Homo sapiens: one gene and its partners. The protein of the gene in region 3 interacts with the protein of the main gene of each other region in a pairwise test. Each region holds a gene or a part of one and is shown on either strand. Other genes may lie near its edges.

The links. Proteins that work in one complex are often made in the same cells at the same time.
Region 1: the proteins of LARP4B (region 3) and NDUFS1 interact in binary tests that used the Homo sapiens proteins (3 or more experiments, as listed by UniProt).
Region 2: the proteins of LARP4B (region 3) and ATXN1L interact in binary tests that used the Homo sapiens proteins (3 or more experiments, as listed by UniProt).

The regions. Positions count from the first base shown.
Region 1 is NC_000002.12:206,114,158-206,121,958, reverse strand, and holds the end of NDUFS1 (NADH-ubiquinone oxidoreductase 75 kDa subunit, mitochondrial isoform 1 precursor), read left to right. Parts: 3' UTR 1-7,142; downstream 7,143-7,801.
Region 2 is NC_000016.10:71,841,586-71,849,262, reverse strand, and holds the start of ATXN1L (ataxin-1-like), read right to left. Parts: upstream 3,288-7,677; 5' UTR 3,159-3,287; intron 1,254-3,158; 5' UTR 1,192-1,253; intron 1-1,191. UniProt on the Homo sapiens protein: Chromatin-binding factor that repress Notch signaling in the absence of Notch intracellular domain by acting as a CBF1 corepressor. Binds to the HEY promoter and might assist, along with NCOR2, RBPJ-mediated repression.
Region 3 is NC_000010.11:809,075-816,875, reverse strand, and holds the end of LARP4B (la-related protein 4B), read left to right. Parts: intron 1-1,805; coding exon 1,806-1,930; intron 1,931-2,025; coding exon 2,026-2,134; coding exon of another isoform or gene 2,135-2,239; intron 2,240-3,619; coding exon of another isoform or gene 3,620-3,662; coding exon 3,663-3,950; 3' UTR 3,951-7,379; downstream 7,380-7,801. UniProt on the Homo sapiens protein: Stimulates mRNA translation.

The DNA.
Region 1 (7,801 bases), on a different chromosome or scaffold from region 3:
GTGCTCATCTTGAGGGGACATAGTCCCAATTTTGTATTTTATATAATACTGTTAATGAATATGTGTAGACTTCATATGGTTGTGGGTAAGAGAATACTGCATTCAGATAGAAAAGATGCTATATAGCTAAGTTGATCCAGGATCCTTGGGCTACCTGCTAGGCAGCTTGTGGTGAACAATCATAATCTCTAAAAAATACCTTGTCTGGACCGGGCGCGGTGGCTCACACCTGTAATCCCAGCACTTTGGCAGGCTGAGGCGGGCAGATCATTGAGGTCAGGAGTTTGAGACCAGCCTGGCCAACGTGGTGAAACCCTGTCTCTACTAAAAATACAAAAATTAGCCAGGCATGGTGGCACATGGCTGTAATCCCAGCTACTGGGGAGGCTGAAGCAGGAAAATCGCTTGAACTGAGAGTCAAGGCGGAGGTCGCGGTAAGCCGAGATCACACCATTGCACTGCAGCCTGGGTGAAGAAACAAGCCTCCCTCTCAAAAAATAAATAAATAAATAAATAATACCTCCTCTGGGATAAGTAGTGCTCCGTCTGTCTCATGGGCACATATTAGTGTCGTAATGCCAAATACTAAGGTTATTGTAAGCATAAACATTGAAGATAATTGCTAGAGAAAAATAGACTGAAAAAGATGTAAGAAAAATACACGTAGATGAGAGTAACCTGTCTGGTGGAATCATGACATTCTAAGCAGTGAAGGAATCACCAATGAGAAAATCTACAAAGGCTCAAGATCAAGTCTCTTTAGGTGAATAAGGCAATCTAGAAAGACCTTGGAATAATAATACCATTTCCTGAGGACCTTCTAAATAAGTGCCATTAAAGCTTTAAATACATTAAGACTATTCTTCACAAAATCTCTGCTAATAGTAGGTATTAATTGAGACTCAAGAAATATCAAATAACTTATTTATGGCTACACAGCTAGATACTAATGGCAGGAGTGTTTAATTAGAAGTACTTTTACTATCCCAGGTTGCCTCAAATGAAAACATTTTGGACAGCAATGTAAGGTGAATAGCTGAGCATGATGGCACAAGCTATAGCCCCAGCTACTTGGGAGGCTGAGGCACAAGGATTGCTTGAGCAAATGAGTTGAGTCCAGCATGGACAACTGTATTCCTGCAGCCTGCTTGTATTCCTCTCCTCAAAGTGCTTTTTCCTTCTCTGCCACATGACTAGTCTGTGAATTTTCCAAACTTCTACGCTCTGCTTCCCTTTTAAATATGTTCCAACTTTAAGTTATTTCTTTGCTTCCATATCTGATTGTAGGCTGCTAGCATCAGCCAGGCCACATCTTGAATGCTTTGCTGCTTAGAAATTTCTTCTGCCAGATACCCTGATACCCTAAGTCATCACTCTTAAGTTCAAACTTCCACAGATTCCTAGGGCCTGGACACAATGCACCCAAGCTATTTGCTAAAGCATGACATAGATGTACCTTTATTCCTGTTCCCAATAACTTCCTCATTTCCATCTGAGACCTCATCACTCTGGACTTCACCATATGTCTATCAGCATTTTGGTCACAACCACTTAACTAGTCTCTAAGTTCCAAACTTTCCCTCATCTTTCTGTCTTCTGAGCCCTCCAGATTCTTCCAACCTCTGCCTGTTACCCAGTTCCAAAGCTGTTTCTACATTTTCCAATATGTATAGCAGTGCCCCACTGTCAGTACTAATCTGTTTTAATCTGTTTGCATTACTGTAAAGGAATATCTGAGATTGGGTAATTCTTGCAAAAGAGAGATTTAATTGGCTTACAGTTTCTGCAGGCTGTACACAAAGCATGGCACCAGCAGCTGCTTCTGATGAGGGCCTCAGGAAGCTTACAATCATGGTAGAAGGCAAAATGGGAGCGAGCATATCACATGGTGAGAGAGGGAGCAAGAGAGAGGAGGAGGTCCCAGACTCTAAACAACCAAATTTCACATGAACTAAGATCTCACTCATCACCAAGGTGATGGTGCCAAGCCATTCATGAAGGATTTGCCCCATGATTCTATACCTCCCACGAGGCCCTACCTCCAGCATTGGGGGTTACATTTCAACATGAGATTTGGAAGTGACAGCCATCCAAACCATATCAGCAACATAACAAGACCCCCAACTCTTAAAAAAAAAAGTTGAATATATATCCAAAAATATCTTGAATTCCATATGGAAAGCCTCCCCCCTCAAATTTGTAGTAAATTGTATTATAATGAATACATTAATTAAAAATATACTTGGCCTGGCACAGTAGCTCAAGCCTGTAATCCCAGCACTTTGGGAGGCCGAGGCAGGCGGATCACCTGAGGTCAGGAGTTTTCGAGACCAGCCTGTCCGACATGGTGAAACTCTGTCTCTACTAAAAATACAAAATTAGCCAGCCATGGTGGCATATGCCTGTAATCCCAGCTACTCACTCAGGAGGCTGAGGCAGGAGAATCACTTAAACCCAGGAGACGGAGGTTGCAGTGAGTCAAGATTGCACCGTTGCACTCCAGCCTGGGTGACAGAGTGAGACTCTGTCTGAAAAAAAGTAAAAATTAAAAAATATATTTGACAATACCCAGTACCAATTTATTGTTTGTTGTTGACATTAACATTTTCTTTAAGAGTATTTCTTCATCTGTAAAATGAGGATAAAAATTGTAAAATTGTACCTACTTCCAGCCTCATAGAATTGTTTTGATGATTACATCAGAAAGCTTGTAAAAACCTTAGGCCTGTTTCCTGACATATACTAAATGCCCCATGTGCTAACTGAGGATGATCATTGTAGGAAAATTTCATAGACTATGAGGGAAAGCCATGCCTAAAATAATCTCCAGCTTATTAAGAAGTGCATTCCTTTTTGTTTCTTTGTTTTATCTTAGATTGAGTCTCACTGTATTGCCAGTCTGGAGTGCAGTGGCGCAATCTCAGCTCACTGCAACCTCCACCTCCTGGGTTCAAGCGATCCTCCTGCCTCAGCCTCCTGAGTAGCTGGGACTACAGGAGCACACCACCACGCCCAGCTAATTTTTGTGTTTTTAGTAGAGGCGGGGTTTCACCATGTTGGGCAGGATGGTCTCAAACTCCTGACCTCAGGTGATCCACCCGCCTCAACCTCCCAGAGTGCTGGGATTACAGGCGTGAGCTATCCGTGCCCAGTCAATTTTTGTATTTTTAGTAGAGATGAGGTTTCACCATATTGGTCAGGCTGGTCTTGAACCCCTGACCTCAGGTGATTCACCCGCCTCAGCCTCCCAAAGTGCTGGGATTCCAGATGTGAGCCAGCGCACCCAGCCTGGCCATCTTTTATAAAAAGATGAAGATGTCAGAATTCCCTAATAAGATTCTGGCTCTGTTACCCAGACTGGAGTGCAATGCATGGCATGATCTCAGCACACTGCAACCTCCATCTCCTGGGCTCAAGCCATCCTCCCACTTCAGTCTCCCAAGTGGCTGGGACTACAGGCACACGCCACCACACCTGGCTAATTTTTGTATTTTTTGTAGAGACGAGGTTTCGCCATGTTACCCAGGCTGGTCTTAAACTCCTGAGTTCAAGTGATCCACCTGCCTCAGCCTCCCAAAGTGCTGGGATTACAGGCATGAGCCACTGTACCCGGCCCCTAATAAGTTTTAAATAACCAATATTTTAAAATATTTTAATAGTTACATAGCACTTTAGTTTGCTGATTTAATTTATCCCAAGGGACAAGGATGTTAATGAGAAAACTGACTAGATTTCAGATCACAGATTTTAAGAGAACAAGGATCTCAAAACCAAATACCCTCTGCTTAAAGTGTTTTTTGTGTTTTTCACTACTGAAAATGTTTAGAGATTGACTTACCTATTGCTGATACTCAAAACATCTGATATCTTAATATTTTTAAATAACTCACTAAAAGCATATGTTGAAAATGGCAATGTATAGTCTGAGACTGGTGATTAGACTGGACTAAAAGCATATGTTGGAAATGGCAAATATATGATCTGAGACTGGTGATTAATTTACAGTATTGGCACCTAAAGAGATACTGAGATGAATAACTTATTAATTTCCTTCTTAAAATCATAATTTTGGATCTGTAAAGGACTATACAAAAAAAAATTTTAGTATTATACCTGCATTTTATAATTGTGGAAATGGAGGCCAGAAAGAATAAGAGGCAAGTTAGGGGCAGATCTTGGGTTTGGATCAGCTCTTCTGATGCCTGGTTCTGTGACATTACAAAGCCTGAAATTCAGCTCCAACATCTATTAAACATTTGCAGAGTATCAGCTGGGTGCGGTGGCTCTCATAAGGCCAGGAGTTCAAGACCAGCCTGGCCAAGATAGTGAAACCCCATCTCTACTAAAAATACAAAAATTAGCCGGGCATGGTGGCAAGACACCTGTAATCCCAGCTACTCTGGAGGCTGAGTCAGAGAATTGCTTAAACCTGGGAGGCGGAGGTTGCAGTGATCCCAGATCGCGCCACTGCGCTCTAGCATGGGCGACAAAGCGAGACCCCATCTCAAAAAGAAAAACAAAATTTTTTTGCAGAGTATCTACTGTGTGTCAAGTACATTACCCAAGACTACAAAGAGAAATACAATTTAGCTAATGTCCTCAAGAAGCTAACAGTATACTAAAAGAGATATGTAGGCATCAATTATAGTAATGACATAACATATTCTAATAGAGGTAAGTACATAACACAGTGGGCATGTCTAGTTGTCTTTGTTTCTGCTGTTAAAACAGAATATCACAGACTGGGTGATGGGTTGATTGATTGACTGATTGAGGCAACTCTGTCACCCAGGCTGGGGTTCAGTGGCATGATCACAGTTCACTGCAGCCTCAACCTCCCTGGATCAAGCAATCCTCCTGCCTCAGCCTCCTGAACAGCTGGAACTACAGGTGTGAGCCACCATGCCCCACTAATTTTTATTTATTTATTTTTTTTTTCTGAGACGGAGTCTCAGTTTGTCGCCCAGGCTGAAGTGCAGTGGCACAATCTCAGCTCACTGCAACCTCCACCTCCCGGGTTCAGTTTTCCTGCCTCAATCTACTAGGATCTAGCTAGGATTACAGGTGTGCGCCACCATGCCCAGCTAATTTTTGTATTTTTAGTAGAGACGGGGTTTCACCATGTTGGTCAGGCTGGTCTCAAACTCCTGACCTCATGATCTGCCCACCTCGGCCTCCCAAAGTGCTGGGATTACAGGCGTAAGCCACCGCGCCCAGCTAATTTTTAAAAATATTTTATAGAGACAGGTCTCACTATGTTGCCCAGGCTCGTCTTGAACCCCTGGGCCCAGGCGCTCCTCCCACCTTGACCTCCCAAAGTTCTGGAATTACACATGTGAGCCAACACACCAGGCCCAGACTGGGTAATTTATAAAGAAATTTACTTCTGCCCACACCGCCCCGCCTCCCCGCGCGAGTGGCTGAGGCGTAGCGCTGCCATCCCCGCACCCCTGGGAACATGGCGCTGCGAGTGGTGCGGAGCGTGCGGGCCGTGCTCTGCAGCCTGCACGTGGTCCTGGCACCTGCCGCGCCCTGCCTATCGAGGCCCTGGCAGCTTGGGATGGGCGCCGTCTGGTTACTGTAATCTGCCTGAAGTTGGGACAAAATTGAACAAACAAGATGAGTTTGGTGCTTTGGAGAGTGTGAAAGCTGCTAGTGAACTCTATTCTCCTTTATCAGGAGAAGTAACCGAAATTAATGAAGCTCTTGCAGAAAATCCAGGACTTGTAAACAAATCTCGTTATGAAGATGGTTGGCTGATCAAGATGACACTGAGTAACCCTTCATAACTAGATGAACTTATGAGTGAAGAAGCATATGAGAAATACATAAAATCTATTGAGGAGTGAAAATGGAACCACTAAATAAGCTAGTATGAAATAACGCAACCCAGCAGAGTTGTCCTAAATTAGTGGTGGATAGAAGACTTAGAATAGCAACTTTTAGCATTACCCATGGGAAAAAAAAACTACTGTTAACACTGCTAATGAAAGAAGATGCCTTTTAACTTTCTAATGATTGTAGATAAACATAATATGTGTCTTTTTCACAACATCCTATGATTTTTAGACTAGGCTCTAGTATTCATGAAATTATCCATGAAATTATCCATGGTAAAAATTAGTTACAAAAATTACATAATTCAAAGATAATGTTGTTATTCTTAAGCCTTATATAATATTGTAACTTGTGTATGTCCATACCTGGACTTGGGATGAAATACTTAATGATCTTTCCATTGGAAATAACTGGGAGTGAAGAAGTTTTTGTTGCTTGTACAGTGTCAGATGAAGAACAACACTATCTTAATTTTGCAATACACTGCATTTGCTGGTGCTGTTTTTATATAGTGAAGCAACAGCTGTACAGCAAAATAATAAAATACTCACTTCTTCGTTAAAAAAAAAAAAAATTTACTTCTTACAATTCTGGAGGCCAGGAAGACCATGATCAGGTGCCAGCATCTGGGAAGGGCCTTCTTGCTGTCCTCCCATGGCAGAAGATGGAAGGGCAAGGGAGAGCTAACATGCTCCCGCAAACCCTTTTTATAATGGCATCAATCAAATATGAGGCCAGAGTCCTTGTGACCTAATCATCTCCCAGAAGGCTCCGCCTCCCAACCCTGTTGCATTGGGATTAAGTTTCCAACACATGAATTGTGGAGACAACACATTCAAAACATAGCATTCCACACCTTGGGCTCCCCAGATTCATGTCCTCACATGCAAAATAAATTCATTCCATCCCAATAGCCCCTAAAAAGTCTTAACTTGTTCCAGCATCAACTTTAAAGTCAAAGTCCAAAGTCTCATCTAAATCAGATATGAGTGAGACTCAAGGCATGATTCATCATGAGACAAAGGATGTACATTTGCAATGTTTGTCATGTCAGACAAAACAAAAATATGTAAATATCCATCAATAGGGAACTGCTGAAAAATTTTTTTGTATAATCATAAAATGAAACATGCAGATGTTTAAACCAATGAGCTAGATCTCAACGTGCTGATATGGAAAGTGCTTCAGAATGTATTAAGGACATAAATTAAGTGTACAATAATGTGTGTGTGTGTATATATGTATATGCTTACGTGTGTATGGAAAGTATCTCAGCAGATACAATAAAAACTTAATTGTGATTACCCCTGGATCAATTAACATGTGGTATAGTATAAGGAAATGAATTTTATACCTTGATCAAACATTTGAAAAATTTTACAATATACTGCTTTATAATTTTTAGAAACAACATATTGTGGCCAAGTGCGGTAGCTCACGCCTGTAATCCCAAAGGCCAAGGCGGGCAGATCACCTGAGGTCAAGAGTTTGGGACCAGCCTGACCAACATGGAGAAACCCCATCTCTACTAAAAATACAAAATTAGCCAGATGTGGTGGTGCATGCCTGTAATCCCAGCTACTTAGGAGACTGAGGCAGGAGAAACGCTTGAACCTGGGAGGTGGAGGTTGCGGTGAGCTGAGATCACACCATTGCACTCCAGCCTGGGCAACAAGAGCGAAATTCCATCTCAAAAAAAAAATTGTTTAAATGAAGAATCTGTAGGAAAACAAAATGTTGATAAAAAGTAGTCCAGGCACGGTGGCTCACGCCTGTAATCCCAGCACTTTGGGAGGCCGAGGCAGGTGGGTCACCTGAGGTCAGGAGTTTGAGACCAGCCATAGCCAACATGGTGAAACTCTGTCTCTACTAAAAATACAAAAAATTAGCCGGGCATGGTGGCATGCGCCTGTAGTCCCAACTACTCAGGAGGCTGAGGCAGGAGAATTGCTTGAACCCAGGA
Region 2 (7,677 bases), on a different chromosome or scaffold from region 3:
TTTCCTGCTGGCTCTTTTGCTTTTTTTTTTTTTTTTTTTTTTTTTTAAAACACATGGAGTTTTGCTCTTGTTGCCCTGGCCACAGTACATGGTGCAATCTCAGCTCACCGCAACCTCGCCTCCCGGGTTCAAGCAATTCTCCTGCCTCAGCCTCCCAAGCAGCTGGGACTACAGGCATGCACCACCACGCCTGGCTAACTTTGTATTTTTAGTAGAGATGGGGTTTCACCATGTTGGCCAGGCTAGTCTCGAACGCCTGCCCTTGGGTGATCCGCCCACCTCAGCCTCCCAAAGTGCTGGGATTACGGGTGTGAGCCACAGCGCCCAGCCTCCTGCTGGCTCTTTTTCTTAAGTTTCTCCTTTTGCTACCAAACATGAATGTGCCACCTTCTTTCCTGAACATATGACCTCATCCTTGCTTCCTTTCTGTAGCCTAATTTGGGTTATGATCTCACCTACTGCTATCCCAAGCCTGGCTAAAAACTCTCTTCCTCCTTTGCCTCATCTCATCAGTACCTCAAGGACCTAGGTGCCAAAACCCTCAGGTCTGCTCGTGTTTTGTTTTTTTTTTTAAGACTTTGCTCCCTAACCAGGTTATGAAAATTAACATCTTTGACCCATGAAATAATACATTTTAACTCAGCCTCTATATAGTGAAAGTGATTAAACTAGTTTGCTGTCAACTTGTTTCTCCTCTTCACCAAAGAACAACAAAATTCTAAATTCTTCTGACCTTACGTACACTTCCGGTTCCCTAGTCTCAAAAGGCTTCTTCTCAATGATCACCTTCAATTTGCCTTCTCTATTCATTCCCTTTCTTTTTTCTTTGTGCTTTCTTTTACCAATAGCTCCTTCTCCACTGTAGGTCTGCTCCAGGCACCACTCCATGAAATTCTGGTTCCATTCCTCTAAACATGCCTGTTTTTTTCCCCGTATCTGTATGATTCATAAGAAAGTTCTCTTTCCCTTTTCTCTTATTGTCACCTTTCACAAATGCTTTTGTCCATTGTTATAAAGCAACTTTTTGGTCTGAACACTTCAGTGCACATGAACTTTGCTGCCTATTTCTTCCAACCAGGTTCCAGTTCTTTGGATCTGAAAAGAGCTTTCTATATTACATTCTGTTCTGTTTTTCCACTGTGACATCCCAGATATTTTCCTGAAACAAGGAATTCAAAGTGCCGGTATTACCTGAGTTTCCAGTGGTGCTTCTGAGCAGCTGTAGTAAGTGTCCTCCCGGCTGGCTCGGGAGCCTAGAAGATAGAAACAGGAATGGAGTAAGCGGCTGCCTGACCTCTAATTCTCCCCAGGGTCACCATGAAAGGTAATTCCAAAGCATTAGAGTATACACGTCCTTGCCTCATCTTCTTCTCCACAGGTAAACAGTACATTTACCCAGAGTGCCCAGGCAGTTGAACAGAGAGAAAAACACCTCTAATGCTCCAACTTGTAAGAAGACATCCCTGAAAAAAAATTTCCATGTATCAAATTTCATTGGTTTTCCGTAACATCATTTCCCTAACATCTACCTGTGCCTGTTCCCCAAAGGTTAAATTTGCTCCAATCCAAATTTCAGATAAACGCACAAATAAAAATGGAAGCTTTAACACTGTTCCCATATGAACAATGGGAAGCAGGAAAAATCAACTCTATGGATTTCCCCTTTATTCTGGGCCTATGAAAACATAAATGTGGAGTTATTTAAATGAAAAAAAGCAGCAGTAGATGAAAAAGAACAATTATTTATGTTTCTGGGGCAGAAAAAGAGGTCAGGGGGGAGTCACTCAAGGAGAAGACTTATTAAGAGATTTTCAGGGTTAAAAAAAAATGAGCATATGTGTGTGTGTATGTAAAATTTTCTGAGTGACAGTATACCAAGTGCTGAATCAGGTATGAAAGAAACTGAAAATATTGCCTTGGTCCTCAGCTGGCTAACACTGGTGAAACAAAACTACCACTAAACCATCACTATGTGAATCTACACTTGCCAGAAACGCAAAGCGAGAAAGAATGGAGCCTTAACCTCTGAAAACAGAGAAGGCAGTACAGATGAGTGAGTGCTCTGAGAAACTGACTATCCTGTCCAAGTCCTATAGAACACTCTAAGCCTCAACCCAAACCGAATGCAACATTTCTCTCTTAAGATTGGCAAGGTGCAGGTGTACACAAAAGGTGGAAGGATAGGAAAACACAGTGGGAAAACAAATTCCTAATTCCACAAACACATATTATTACACAGTGGCATAAATAATGACTCTTTTCTCCACCAGCAGCTTTAATAACTGAAAAGCAGCTTGCTTTCTTCTTCATTCCCAACAGAAACTGGGGTCACACTTCAATCCCAAAATGATCCTTGCTTTCTGTAACGAAAACTTTAAAGAAAACCTGCCTCCAGGTCACCGAGAAGTTAGCAAACACAGGCTAGTAAAGGGACCGAAAGAGGCAAAAGGTCTGCAGAAAGGAAAACAAAGAGCCAAGCCTGTGCGCCAGGTTCCCACAACGCAAAACACACTTAAGAATCCGAAACCTCCGCCTCTCGAGAACCTCACTGAGCATCTCAAAGGGAAAACGCAGCTTGTGACCCCAACCGAGCTAACAGGCTGTTCAGGAGAGTTGCCAACGCTGCTAGCAGAGCCCGGAACCAAGCTCCTCATCACGCTTGGGTCGGAATCAAGGGGCTGAACCCAGCTGGAGACCCAAATTCTCTGCGGGCGAGAGGTGCGCCCGACAGAAAGGGAGAAGCTTGTCAGAGACTACGGTTATGGCTCCCAGTGGTCCCGCAATCCTTGATCCAACAAGGGTAGGGCTCGAAATTGGGAATTCTGCGTTTAGAGAGTAGGGGGTCCACCCTTCACCAAGGGGGCAGGGGCGAGGCCCTGCAGGCGACGCTTCCTTGTTTGGGGGCCCTTCCCGCCCCACAGACTCGGACACCTTGGCTCGCAGGCACACAGCCTCCGGGGCGCCGGGGCCTGAGGCCACCTTCCAGGACAGGCCAGAGAGAAGCGCGAGGGGGTCTAGGTGCGGCCTCTCCCCTCCGTCTGTCCACGGTTCATGGGCCCCGGCCCGCCGGAGCAACGGGCTCCTGAGGGCCACTTCCTCCGGAGCACCGACCCCAGGCCTGCCTGGCCCCGGCGGCCACCACTTCCAGGGACACTCACCAGCCCATTTCACAGCGCTTCCCAGGATCCACTCACTCGTCCCGGAGCCGCCGCAACCGCGGCCGCCGCCATCCCCGGCCCCGGAGCCGCCCCACACCCAGCGCCCCCCACAGCCGGGCGCCCGGAGATGGCGTCAAGCTCGTCCCGCCCCCGGCGCGGAGAGATTGCGTCACGGCCGGGGTGGGAGAGCAACGCCCAGGACTCCCCGGGAAGGGAGGGTGCCACACTGCCTTCGCGTCGGGCGTTCCCTCTGGTGGGTGAACAAACTCCTCTCCCTGGGACCGGGTCACGTGAATAGGGCTGGGCCCGGCCCCCTCAGCCTGACCCCACAATGACCCCGCAATCTTTCCACCTCAGTAAATTTTGGGGGTTCCCAAACAGAGCCCCGGGGCGTGGTCATCGGCGACCCCCCATTTCCTGGACTTCTTGTCCTGACTTGTGCAGCCCCTTCTGGGGAACTTCGGGGGACCCCGAGGTGACCTAGGCTCAGGAGAAAAGGAGATACCTCTTACCTCTTGGGGACCCAGGTGGAGATAGGAAGTCTTCTTTTTTTCTTTTCTTTCTTTTTTTTGGAGACAGTTTCGCTCTTGTTGCCCAGGCTAGAGTGCAATGGCACGATCTCGGCTCACCCAACCTCCGCCTGCCAGGTTCAAGCAATTCTCCTATCTCAGCCTCCCGAGTAGCTGGGATTACAGGCATGCGCCACCACACCTGGCTAATTTTTTGTATTTTTAGTAGAGACAGGGTTTCTCCTTGCTGGTCAGGCTGGTCTCGAACTCCCGACCTCAGGTGATCCCCACACCTCGGCCTGCCAAAGTGCTGGGATTACAGGCGTGAGCCACCGTGCCAGGTCAATAGGAGCTCTGTAAGTGTTGAGAAGTGGCCCCCGAGGGAGCTAAGAGTGAACCCCACTCAGGATCTAGGGGAAGGTGACAAGGAGTGGAACACCTGAAAGTTTAGAGAGAGCCCGGGGTTTAGTACAGTGAGAAGCAGCTTGGTTTAGTGGAAAGAGGGCTTGACTACTCAGTGAAATATTATTCATTACAAATTAACTAATTATTCATTACAAATTAACTGGTCAACTTCATAGTAACATGAACATCTGATTAACTTAAGTGAAGACAAAAGTGAGCGCCAGTTGAATTTATGTTTGAATAACAACTGTGTTTTTGTTGTTGTTTGTTTTAAAGTATTAGGTTGGTGCAAAAGTAATTGCGGTTTTGGCCACCGAAATGGAGACTTTCAGTTTCTTCAAACTCTGTTCAATAAATAACAATTGGGCCAGGCGCGGTGGCTCACGCCTGCAATCCCAGCACTTTGGGAGGCCAAGGCCGGCGGATCACGAGGTCAGGAGATCGCAGACCATCCTGGCTAACACGGCGAAACCCCGTCTCTACTAAAAATACAGAAAATTAGCCGGGCATGGTGGCGGGCACCTGTACTCCCAGCTACTCGGGAGGCTGAAGCAGGAGAATGGCATGAACCCGGGAGGCAGAGCTTGCAGTGAGCCGAGATCGTGCCACTGCACTCCAGCCTGGGCAATAGAGTGAGACTCCGTCTTAAAAAAAAAAAAAGAAAAAAAAAGATATGTCATTGCAGTTGCGTGTATGTGTGTGTGTGTGTGTACATATAATTTTTTTTTTTTTTTAGCCCTGTCGCCCAGGTTAGAGTGCAGTGGTGCCATCTTAGCTCACTGCAGCCTCAAATTCCTGTGCTCAAGCAGTCCTCCCACCTCAGCCTCTGGGGTAGGTGCGATGATAGGCATGCACTACCATGCCCAGCTAATTTTTTAAAATTTCTTGCAGAGACAAGGTCTTGCTATGTTGCCCAGGCTGGTCTTAGACTCCTGTGCTCAAGTGATCTTCCCTCCTCGGCCTCCCAAAGTGCTGACATTTCAGTCATGAGCCAACCACACCCAGCGTCGGTTGTATGTATTTCTGTGTATCTGTACAGAAAAGGAGTAGAACACATAACTAATTAACATTGGTTATTTTTGGGAAGGAAAGTGGAATTGGGTGGTGGTCAAAAGGCAAAGAAACAACTTATATTATTGTTTGAATATTTAGGAGAATATTATCTTAGAAATAAAAAAAGTAAGTTGAGATCCAGATACAATGCATGATCTCTAAGATTCTTTCTAGGGAAGCCTTAGATCTCAATTATATTTTCTCACCTGGATGGACACATAGGGCCATAAAAAATTATCAAGTACCACACAGACACACACACAGACACACACACACACGCACACATACACACAGCACAAATGGGAAAAAACATAGTGAAGTTACTGCTGTCATCTAAATCATCTGAGTGTTTTGCTTCATTAATATTAATATTGTTCATGACAGTCTCCTTCTCTCTCAGTTTGGCCAAGAAGGAAGTCCTGTGGTCACTCAGTGTGTCCGTTTTAGCACTAACTAGCATTCTGGTTTCTAGTTCATTTCTTAGCTCACTAAACTGGCATTAAAATAGTCAAGATAGGAACCCTTGGACTATCCAAGCATATTCAAGGATAGCTAGTTTCTCCCAGATCAAGATATACACTCAGAGCTGGGTTTTCTGTACAAATTTGAAAGAGTAGACACAGGTAGATGTAAGCAAAAAAAAAGTTTTATGGCTACCAACCATTAACATAATGATGTACATGATACAAAAGCATGTCCATTAAAAAGTAAAAACAGGATGTTCTGATTGGTGAAACACAGGTGATTTCCGGGTTTGGCACTGCAGTCCCAAAAGGGTGGGTCATATGTCCGCTGTATCCCATTCCCAAACTCTTTACTACTCTGAGTAATCTTTTTTTCTTTGGTTGTATATCCTGATGGTAGAAAGCTCCATAGCAACAGTTTGACAGGTATATTAGTGATAAGTAAACTAATAAAGTTTTTAGATTTATGGCACAAAAATAACCAAAAGTTACCTAATTTATCCAAATATCTGTATTATTTTTCTGGAATCTGGGTAACACCCCTATTTAAGCTATTTATATTCAGTAAACCAGGCCGGGTGTGGTGGCTCACGCCTGTAATCCCAGCACTTTGGGAGGCCAAAGCAGGTGAATCACCTGAGGTCAGGAGTTCAAGACTAGCCTGGCCAGCTTGGTGAAACCCCATCTGTACTAAAAATACAAAAATTAGTTGGGCATGGTGGCCTGTGCCTATAATTCCAGCTACATGAGAGGCTGAGGCAGGATAATCACTTGAACCCAGGCGGCAAAGGTTGCAGTGAGCCGAGATCGTGCCACTGCACTCCAGCCTGGGCAACAAAGTGAGACTCTGTCTCAAAAACACAAACAAACAAAAACTGATAAAGTAAATGTTTTTTTGTTTTTGATGTGTTTTAGGTATTTGGGGTATTTGGAAAATGATAAGTTAAACTTCAATCTGTTTTGTCCACTTCTTCCCTTTCCCTGGATTCCTACTGAATTCCATTGTTGTGTATAGATTGAATTTTTGTGATGGAAGAGCTTGAGCTGCTCTGTTGGAAGGAAAACAAAAATAAAACCCTGTTAATGCTGGTTATTTTTCTCCCTGAGCAGTCAGGAGTTGCAAACTAGCTCTCTGTGTTACCTAGTTCTCACTGGTGACATTTCTTGTCCTGTAATACAGGGAGAGGAAACTCAGGAAACTACCCCAACTCTTTTTTGACAATGCAGATCAAACCAGAGAGAAGCACTGGTAACTTGGGAAACCATGCGTGTCATAACAAGAGGAGTAGGTGGCGTCTTTCATACTGTCATGTCTTCCTGTTTGTATACTTGAGCATGTCAAGGTGTCATTTTAGGAAAGGAACTTTATCTTTGGATGCCAATGGCAGAAACAACAACAAACCAGCCAGGCGCGGTGGCTCATGCCTGTAATCCCAGCACTTCATGAGGCCAAGGCAGGCAGATCACTCGAGGTCAGGAGTTCGAGACCAGCCTGGGCAACAGGGTGAAACCCTCTCTCTACTGAAAATACAAAAATGAGCCAGGCATTGTGGCAGGTGCCTGAATCCCGGCTACTCGGGAGGCTGAGGCAGGAGAATGGCTTGAACCCAGGAGGCACAGGTTACAGTGAGCTGAGATTGCACCACTGCACTCCAGCCCCAGTGACAGAGTGAGACTCTGTTTAAAAAAAAAGAACAGCAAATCCCAAGAATACACTGAAATTGTACTAGGCCAGGTGCAGTGGCTCACACCTGTAATCCCAGCACTTTGGGAGGCCGAGGCGGGTGGATCACGAGGTCAGGAGATCGAGACCATCCTGACTAACACAGTGAAACCCCATCTCTACTAAAAATACAAAAAATTAGCCGGACGTGGTGGTACGTGCCTGTAGTCCCAGCTACTCGGGAGGCTGAGGCAGGAGAATTGCTTGAACTCAGGAGGTGGAGGTTGCAGTGAGCCGAGACCGCGCCACTGCACTCCAGCCTGGGCAACAGAGCGAGACGCTGTCTCAAAAAAAAAAAAAAAAAAGAAGGAAATTATACTGATACTCTAGAAATGTATCGGTGCCTAGTACTAGATTACATTTTT
Region 3 (7,801 bases):
GTAGATAGAACCATTCCTCACTTCCTAGGGCAGAATTTAAGGTGGATTTTGATGCAGTATCTTTACAATGAAAGCCAGGTGACGTGTCTAGTCCTTTTCATATTGGTAGATGGTCATGCTCCTGTTTGGAGATTGAGTACATTCCAGGATTGTCACATTAGCCTTAAATTTCCACACCGTCATTTCTAAGGTATTAGTGCCTTGAGAAGAAATGCAGTTTAAAGATCATGAATTCTAGTTTTCCAACTGTAGCCTACTCCCGTTGGTATTGAGTGGAGGAGAAGAGGCAGGTCTCCAACCCTGCTTCAGAAACAGCAGCTCCTGCTGTGCCCAGTTTGAGTCTTGTGTAAGGTTTCTCTTGAAGAAAGAATTGCTTCTTTGAAAAGCCTGACCCTGAGCCTTATGCCACCACCCAGGTGTAGTGGGCTCCATTGCTGCTTCTTGGGAGCTTCTTGAGTCAACAGCGTGGCCCTTGGGTTTCAAAGTGGGGTGGAGGCTCCAGAAATGATGGGGTTCAGCCCTTCCCCTGTTGACATGGAGCTCGTGATGGTCACTCTGACTTGCTTCATGACCTGCAGTTGTGGATCTGCATTTCATTTGCATTGGGACTGCACATATCCTGAATTAATTAGTTAATTTGTTTATTTAAGATAGAGTCTTGCTCTGTCACCCAGGCTGGAATGCAGTGGCACGACCTTGGCTCCCTGCAACCTCCGCCTCCTGGGTTCCAGTGATTCTCCTGCCTCGGCCTACCGAGTAGCTGGGACTACAGGCATGCACCACCACACCCGGCTAATTTTTGTATTATTAGTAGAGATGGGGTTTCACCATGTTGGCCAGGCTGGCCTCAAACCCCTGACCTCAGGTGATTCGTCCACCTCAGCCTCCCAAAATGCGGGGATTATAGGCGTGAGCCACCGTGCCCGGCCCCTACCCTGAATTTAAAATGAGCTTTTACAAAAGGAGTCCTTTGCCCTCTTGTTTCCACCAAGCTGGATTCCTGCTGGTCGAGCGCAGGAATTGCAGCGGATTCTGGTTCTCCAGCTGGAAGGGCTCTAGGTCTGTCGTCAGCCTTCATCTAAGGGCAGAAGTGTAAAGAGCACCTGCCCTCCTGCCTTTTTTAAGTTGCATGACAAGTGTATCATCACATGCCATATGTATAAGATCAAGCACACATGAAATAGCCCCTGCACAGGGGTCGCTGGCTGGAGTAAGGAGGGAGTAAGTTTCACTCCGTCCTTTGCTTCCTGGCCTTGGGCAAATTAACTTAGAGGTATTGGGCCTCAGTTTCCTCACCTGTTGAGATGGGGGCATTCGCACACCTGCTTCCTGGGGTTGTGAATTCAGGGAGGGCTGGGAGCTCACATTTATATGGGTGTGGAGGCGCCGATTGTTTTTTCTCAGCGGTGTGAATGAGTTGTGTTGGACTGTGTTAGGATTCGACACTCAGCAGATATGCATGTGGTGTTGTGCCGTGCCGTGCTGGGCCCAAAGTGCCAGGTGGGTGAGATGTGTTTGATGCCTGTTCAGTTAAGAAATAAGCTTGTAGATCATCATTGCGGGAGAGGAGATAAGGGCCTGTGATGTAAGAACAGTGGGGCATTTGCCGAGAAAGAGAAGGGTGGGCGATCTGTGGGGCAGAGGATAGTCCTGGGCTCTGTGACATTTTTGCTGGAGAAGACCCTCTTCCCCTATGTCCTTGTGCTGCTCTCCCAAGGCTGTTCACGGGTGGGGTGAACGGGCACTGGTACCAGCTCCGCTTAGTGCCGGCAGGACTCTGATGAACACTCTTGACCCTGTTTCAGACCCTCAGTGCAGACGCAAGCGTGAACACCCTTCCTGTAGTGGTCTCCAGAGAGCCCTCGGTGCCGGCTTCTTGTGCTGTATCAGCAACGTACGAGCGATCCCCCTCCCCAGCTCATTTACCCGAGTGAGTATTGGTGTTCTTCCAGCGCCTTGGTGTTGACTGACTTGAATGGCCTGTGATGTTGCATGAGATTCAAATATCGGGTGGCATTTTTACAGTGATCCCAAGGTGGCGGAGAAACAGAGGGAAACCCACAGTGTGGACAGACTTCCTTCCGCCCTCACTGCGACCGCGTGTAAATCGGTGCAGGTGAACGGAGCCGCCACGGTACGTACCTCGTGCCTGCCTTCCTGCACGACAGCCGCGAGGCTCTGGTGTGAACAGACGCTGCGCACTCCTGCACCTGCTCGTTTTTTAATCACATCTAATTTGGTGGGTTTTTATTTGCGTCTGTCTGTGTTGTGTTTTCTGTACAAAATACCTTTAATATTTGCTAATAATTTTCCACTAACTACTCTAGTTCTTTCTCAGACCACCATGTAGTCCTTTTATTTCAGTGTTGGTCAATAGAGGTTTCTTGAGTAGTAACAAGACCCCAGCTCCTGTTTCTCCATAGACTTTAGGATCATTTCAGCATTTCGCGCGTGTGTGTATGTTTGCGTGCGTGCGCGCGCATCGTGTGTCTGATGAAGAGACAGGAAGAGCAAGATGGTGGCCCCACCAGCCTCCAACCCCTGTGGGCCCAGCAGGCCTGAACCCCAGCGACTTCCTTTCTGCTGTTTTCCCTACTGGGTGAACTGTGGCCTCTCTTACTCTGAGTTGTGGCCTCTGTAGTTTGATCTTGGGGGAGCCTTTTCCTTGAATTTGGGAGTTTAATCCCTTACTGTCCCCTGGGCTGAGTCTAAAAAAGGATTTTTTATAGGTTAAAATTAATAATTTTAATAATAAATAATAATAATAATAAAAGAGGCCAGGTGCTGTGGCTCACGCCTGTAATCCCAGCACTTTGGGAGGCCGAGGTAGGCAGATCATGCGGTCAGGAGATCCAGACAGTCCTGAACAACATGGTGAAACCCTGTCTCTACTGAAAATACAAAAAATTAGCTGGGTTTGGTGGTGGGCACCTGTAGTCCCAGCTACTCAGGAGGCTGAGGCAGGAGAATCACTTGAACCCGGAAGGCAGAGGTTGCAGTGAGCTGAGATTGCACTGCTGCACTCCAGCCTGTGCGACAGAGTGAGACTGTGTCTCAAAAAAAAAAAAAAAAAAGTTATTAAGGGAAATATTTTACTTTTCTGTTATTTAGTCTTTATGCTTCCACTTACCTGAAAACCCTATTACACATTTCTTGAAGATTTTAGCTGTCTTCATCATTCTTAGATATTTCCAGTCCTTTGTAGTTTGAAATGTGCAAAACATTTTTATTTAAAGACTGTTTTTGGAGTTTGCCTTTCAGGGTTGAGTACCGTGTGAGGGTCCATTGCCCACCGTGGGCACCTGGGACACCCTTCTGTTGTCCTGAGCTGGCGGAGCCAGTGTGGGCAGCATCCGGACTCTTCCTAGGCTTCCGCATTGCCCAAGCAGGCATAGGGCTGGGTAGGGATGGTGTTGAGTCAGCACTCTTCTTCGTCATGCCTTTTCTAATTTTATCCATTACTACAGTAGCACAGAGGGAGTGTTCTGCTGCAGGGGAAACTAAATCATTAGATTTTATGAACTTTTTAAAAGTTAAAAACACTAGTGAAGATGGAAACTTAGTTACAGTTGAAAACTCTTTTATCTTAAGTGAACTTGATTTCCTGTCTTGTCCCTAGAGACACCATTTCACACAGGTAACCCAGGATTGTCTGTTTCCAGGAATTGCGAAAGCCCAGCTACGCAGAGATTTGTCAGAGAACGAGTAAAGAGCCTCCTTCTTCCCCATTGCAACCCCAAAAAGAACAAAAGCCAAACACTGTTGGTTGTGGGAAGGAGGAAAAGAAGCTGGCAGAGCCCGCAGAGAGATACCGGGAGCCCCCAGCCCTCAAGTCCACACCTGGAGCCCCCAGAGACCAGAGGCGGCCGGCGGGGGGCCGGCCCTCGCCCTCGGCCATGGGGAAGCGTCTCAGCCGAGAGCAGAGCACTCCCCCCAAGTCTCCTCAGTGAAAACCGTACGTCTGGGAGGGGTCGCAGAGCGCTGTGTTAACCACAAACGAGACACTCTCCCACTCAGTGCGAGGGCGAGCCGCTGGTTAGGAGCTTGCAGTGTCTGAGGCCTGTGGGATCCTCAAGTTGGTTTTCTTCTGTGAGTTGGATTCTCCCCCTCTTGAAAAAAAATCGATTTTTCAGGATTTAATTAATACAAACCTTATTTTAGGTTGGTGCTTAACTGGAGGTGATGCATAAGTCTGATTTTTTTTTCCAAGATAGAAAAAGCATTTATCCTAACAAATTGGTATTTTTTATTAAGCCTCCATGTGGCTCTGAATGCAAGCTATATATAGTGAGTTTTTCTAAATTAAGGGAACTCTGCTTTTTTTTTTTTTTTTTAAGTAACTGGTCTGTAAGTGCATATCTCTAGAACGTCCCCGCAGATGAATGAGGGCCAGTGGCCTTGGCAGAGGCAGGTGTGGCCTCGTAGAGGCAGTGCTGGCCGCGCCAGGGCATCAGTGCTGATGTGGGAGCTGTGCTTCCACCTAAGCCGTTGGTAGGGGACTGTGGCATTTAAGAATGTAGAGAGCGCATCCTTTTTGATCTCCTGGGCGGAGTGAACCTGCAGGGGCCACCCCAGAAACCTTGGTTCTGATGCACTGCAAGCAAGTAACCAGCTTCTCACTCCAGTTTCAAGTGGCTATTATGTAATATAAATTCAAAGCACATTGTGAATAGAACCTACATGAAAACATACACTTTGTTGCCCACTGACATGTTACCAGAAGTTGTACCATGATGTTGTTTTGACCCCTGTGAGCTGATGGCCCCGGCCCTGCTCTGTGCACATTTCTGTCCGTGTTCCCCAGCACTCTGGTTGGAGAGAGTCCACATCTTCAGCTCCGTGTGGACATCTCCCTGTACCTCTGCATCAGCACATGGATTTAAGAGTTATGTAATCGTGAGAGAATGGTGTTTGTGGTTTTTCCCCCTCTTTGGCTGGTGGAGGATAAAGTTCCTGCTCTTTTACCTCCAAGACGAGGGCCTCATTGATTCACTTCCAGAAGTGCTGCACTTCTGAAGAACAAGGATGCACTAAAGTTAGCAAGTTTATAATAAAGTTAAATATAAATTATTTTGTTTTAAAATGCCTCAAATTTTTCTTTATTCTAAGCAGCAAACATTAAAATAAGAATATTTCCTGCTAAATGTAACCATACACTTTATTCCACAAAATGTTATTTAACAAGACTGAGGGTTTTTTTTAAGAAAAAATTATTTCCATCCAATATTTAAAGACTTGAATTTTATTTAAACTTGAAAATGACTTTGCCTTAACTTTTGTATAAGACAGCTTAGAGTCCATGGAGCCCGGCCCTGGGTTGGCGTGAGTGGGTCAGAGTTACTCAGTTACTGCGTGGATCTCCTGTCGCTAGTTTTACTGAGTAAGCATACTGTAGTACAAGAGCTAGTAGTAGTTTTTGTAATATACCTTAAAGATCTTCAACAGTTGATCTTTTTTCAGAATGTTGGAAAATCCTGTAAATGCAAATAGTCAATACTGTATTAAATACGTGCACTTGGAGTGTGCTTCGCTTGTACAGTTGTAAATAATCAGAACATATGAAAAAGGTACCCTACAGAGAAAATTCTGATACAGATTATTGATATATTATAAATGTTGCTGTTGAGCGGGATGTAGATAAACTAAATGTTGTGGTTTGAATATTATTTTGATTTGTTGAGATTTTCTTTTTTCTCTTACATCGGTGTGTTGAACTGATTCTGCCTCTTTGCTGCAAAAGGGAATTGGAAAGTCTTATTAAAAGCCTCCAGATGTTTTCATACTCTTTTAAAATGTATGTAAATGCATACTAATCATATCTAATGTGAAAGAGTTTTAAAGTATATAGAGAGCAAAAACTGGCAGGATCGTAAGTGAAGGTGACTAGTAATCTAATTTAAATCACCTGCAGCTAAGCATGATTGACCCTGCCAGAGGAAAACATGCCTATTTGACCATTTCCTTTAAAGCAGTTGCCATTATTCAAATACAGAGAAATAGCCACAGGGCTAGTGTTTTTCAAATGCATTTTAAAGAACATGGGGATTTTTTTTTGTAGTTGTCAGTTCACTGACCAAAAAAAAAAAAAAAATCAGAAATAATTGATCTGTGAAACCCAAACTCTCAATACTCAGAAAGCTGGGAGGCAACCTCGAGGCCTGGGCCTACGAGCTGCATCTTCGCTACGGAAGGGCCAGGGCGCCATCAGCCATTCCCAAAACACAAGGCCTGCCCGTCCGCCAGTGAGTCCTTGGTTTTTAATAATGAGAAGTCCTTTCCCCCAAGGTGTGAGCATTGCAGCGCAGTGTGTGTGTGTGGTTAGAGCCAGCTTAGTCCTTCACTTTGTCGACCGAAGTGGGAGCTCAACAGCTGCATGAGGAGGGCAGCGCGTGCATTAGCCAGTCGCCACTGGAGGGCTCTGCTGCCCTCCGGTCAATACACTGTAGTTACTGCCTAGCCAGCAGCAGTCTTCTGCATCAAGAACTGAAACGTTGCTCGGAGGTGATTTTTATAGCATCCTTTTTAATTAAAGGTGAAATACAGATTGCTATATAATGTCTGAAAAAACCTGATACTACTTCAAGAGTTTCTGCTCAGAAGAAAATGAGAGTTATCATAATAGGAAGCTGTGGCGGTCCATGCCAACTGTGCTGTGTCACATACAGCGATGAGAGTGGCTTTCATACTTTTTTTTTTTTTAAGTTAACACCCTCCTTTACCCCCAGCAGTATCTCAGGTTATAGAATCAGAGATGCAGCAGTGACAAATGGCATTTTAACTTGTAAAATCGTGTGATGATGCTTATCATTTTGAAATAGAAGAATAAAAACCTGGTCCCGTTTCACCAGACATGAATTTCAAGTGGAGTCGTCGTTCTCTGAGAGTGAGTGTCTTGACATTTTCACCCAGGCCCTCCTGTCATCACATCACCGGCTGTCACTGGCGGGTGGCCGTAAACGTCCTGCGTTGCTATATTAGGATCTCTGCAGTTCAGGCTTCAAAACCAGTTCAGTGTATCCGGGCGACGGGTAGTGGTGGTGCATGCCTGTCTGTGTGCCCCGCTGGCGAGCTGTAGTTGCGGCTTGCGTGCCTCGCGGCCCACTACAGGGCTGCAGACAATCGAGGCGAGGGCGCTGGCCGCCAGCAGCTCACAGCGCGGGGGTCATGTGGTCGCTCCTCGAGGGTTTCGTTTTTGTTCTGCTTCATTAAGACTGGAATCAAGCTTACATGTAAACTATTGGTAATTTAAGTTTCCTTTTGTGTCATTCAGTGTAAAACTGTCTAATTTGAAAAAAAATGTAGGTTATGAAAATAAAGATTTAGGCACTGTTCAATTTTTCTTTTGATTTTTTTTAAATTAAAATTTCTTCAATAATGCATCTTTTCTAAACATAGTTTTTTGTCTGTTCCCATAAGTGCATGAGAAAGAAACACGGGCCTCATATATGATTGGATCCTAAAGCCTTCTCACCTACGTGGGGGCTGGCTGTGGCACACGGGGCTCACCCTTTGTGTTTTAGTGGTTCAGAGTGAGCATTAACATCAGATGCTCATGCGGAGACAGCCATTACTGTGACTGCCAAGATGTACTGCAAAAATACATGTTCCTGTATCAGGACTTTGATTTTGTTAAAATGGCACTCTCTCCAAAGCTGTGTCCATGAAGCTGTTTGGAGCTAACGTTGGGTCTTCATGGTGATGGACTCATCCTTAGGCAGCAGTGATGTCTGCACTAGGAAGAGGCTGGCGGGAGGCGGGGCCCCTCCTGTGCCAGGCACCGAGTGGATGGGGGACTGATTAA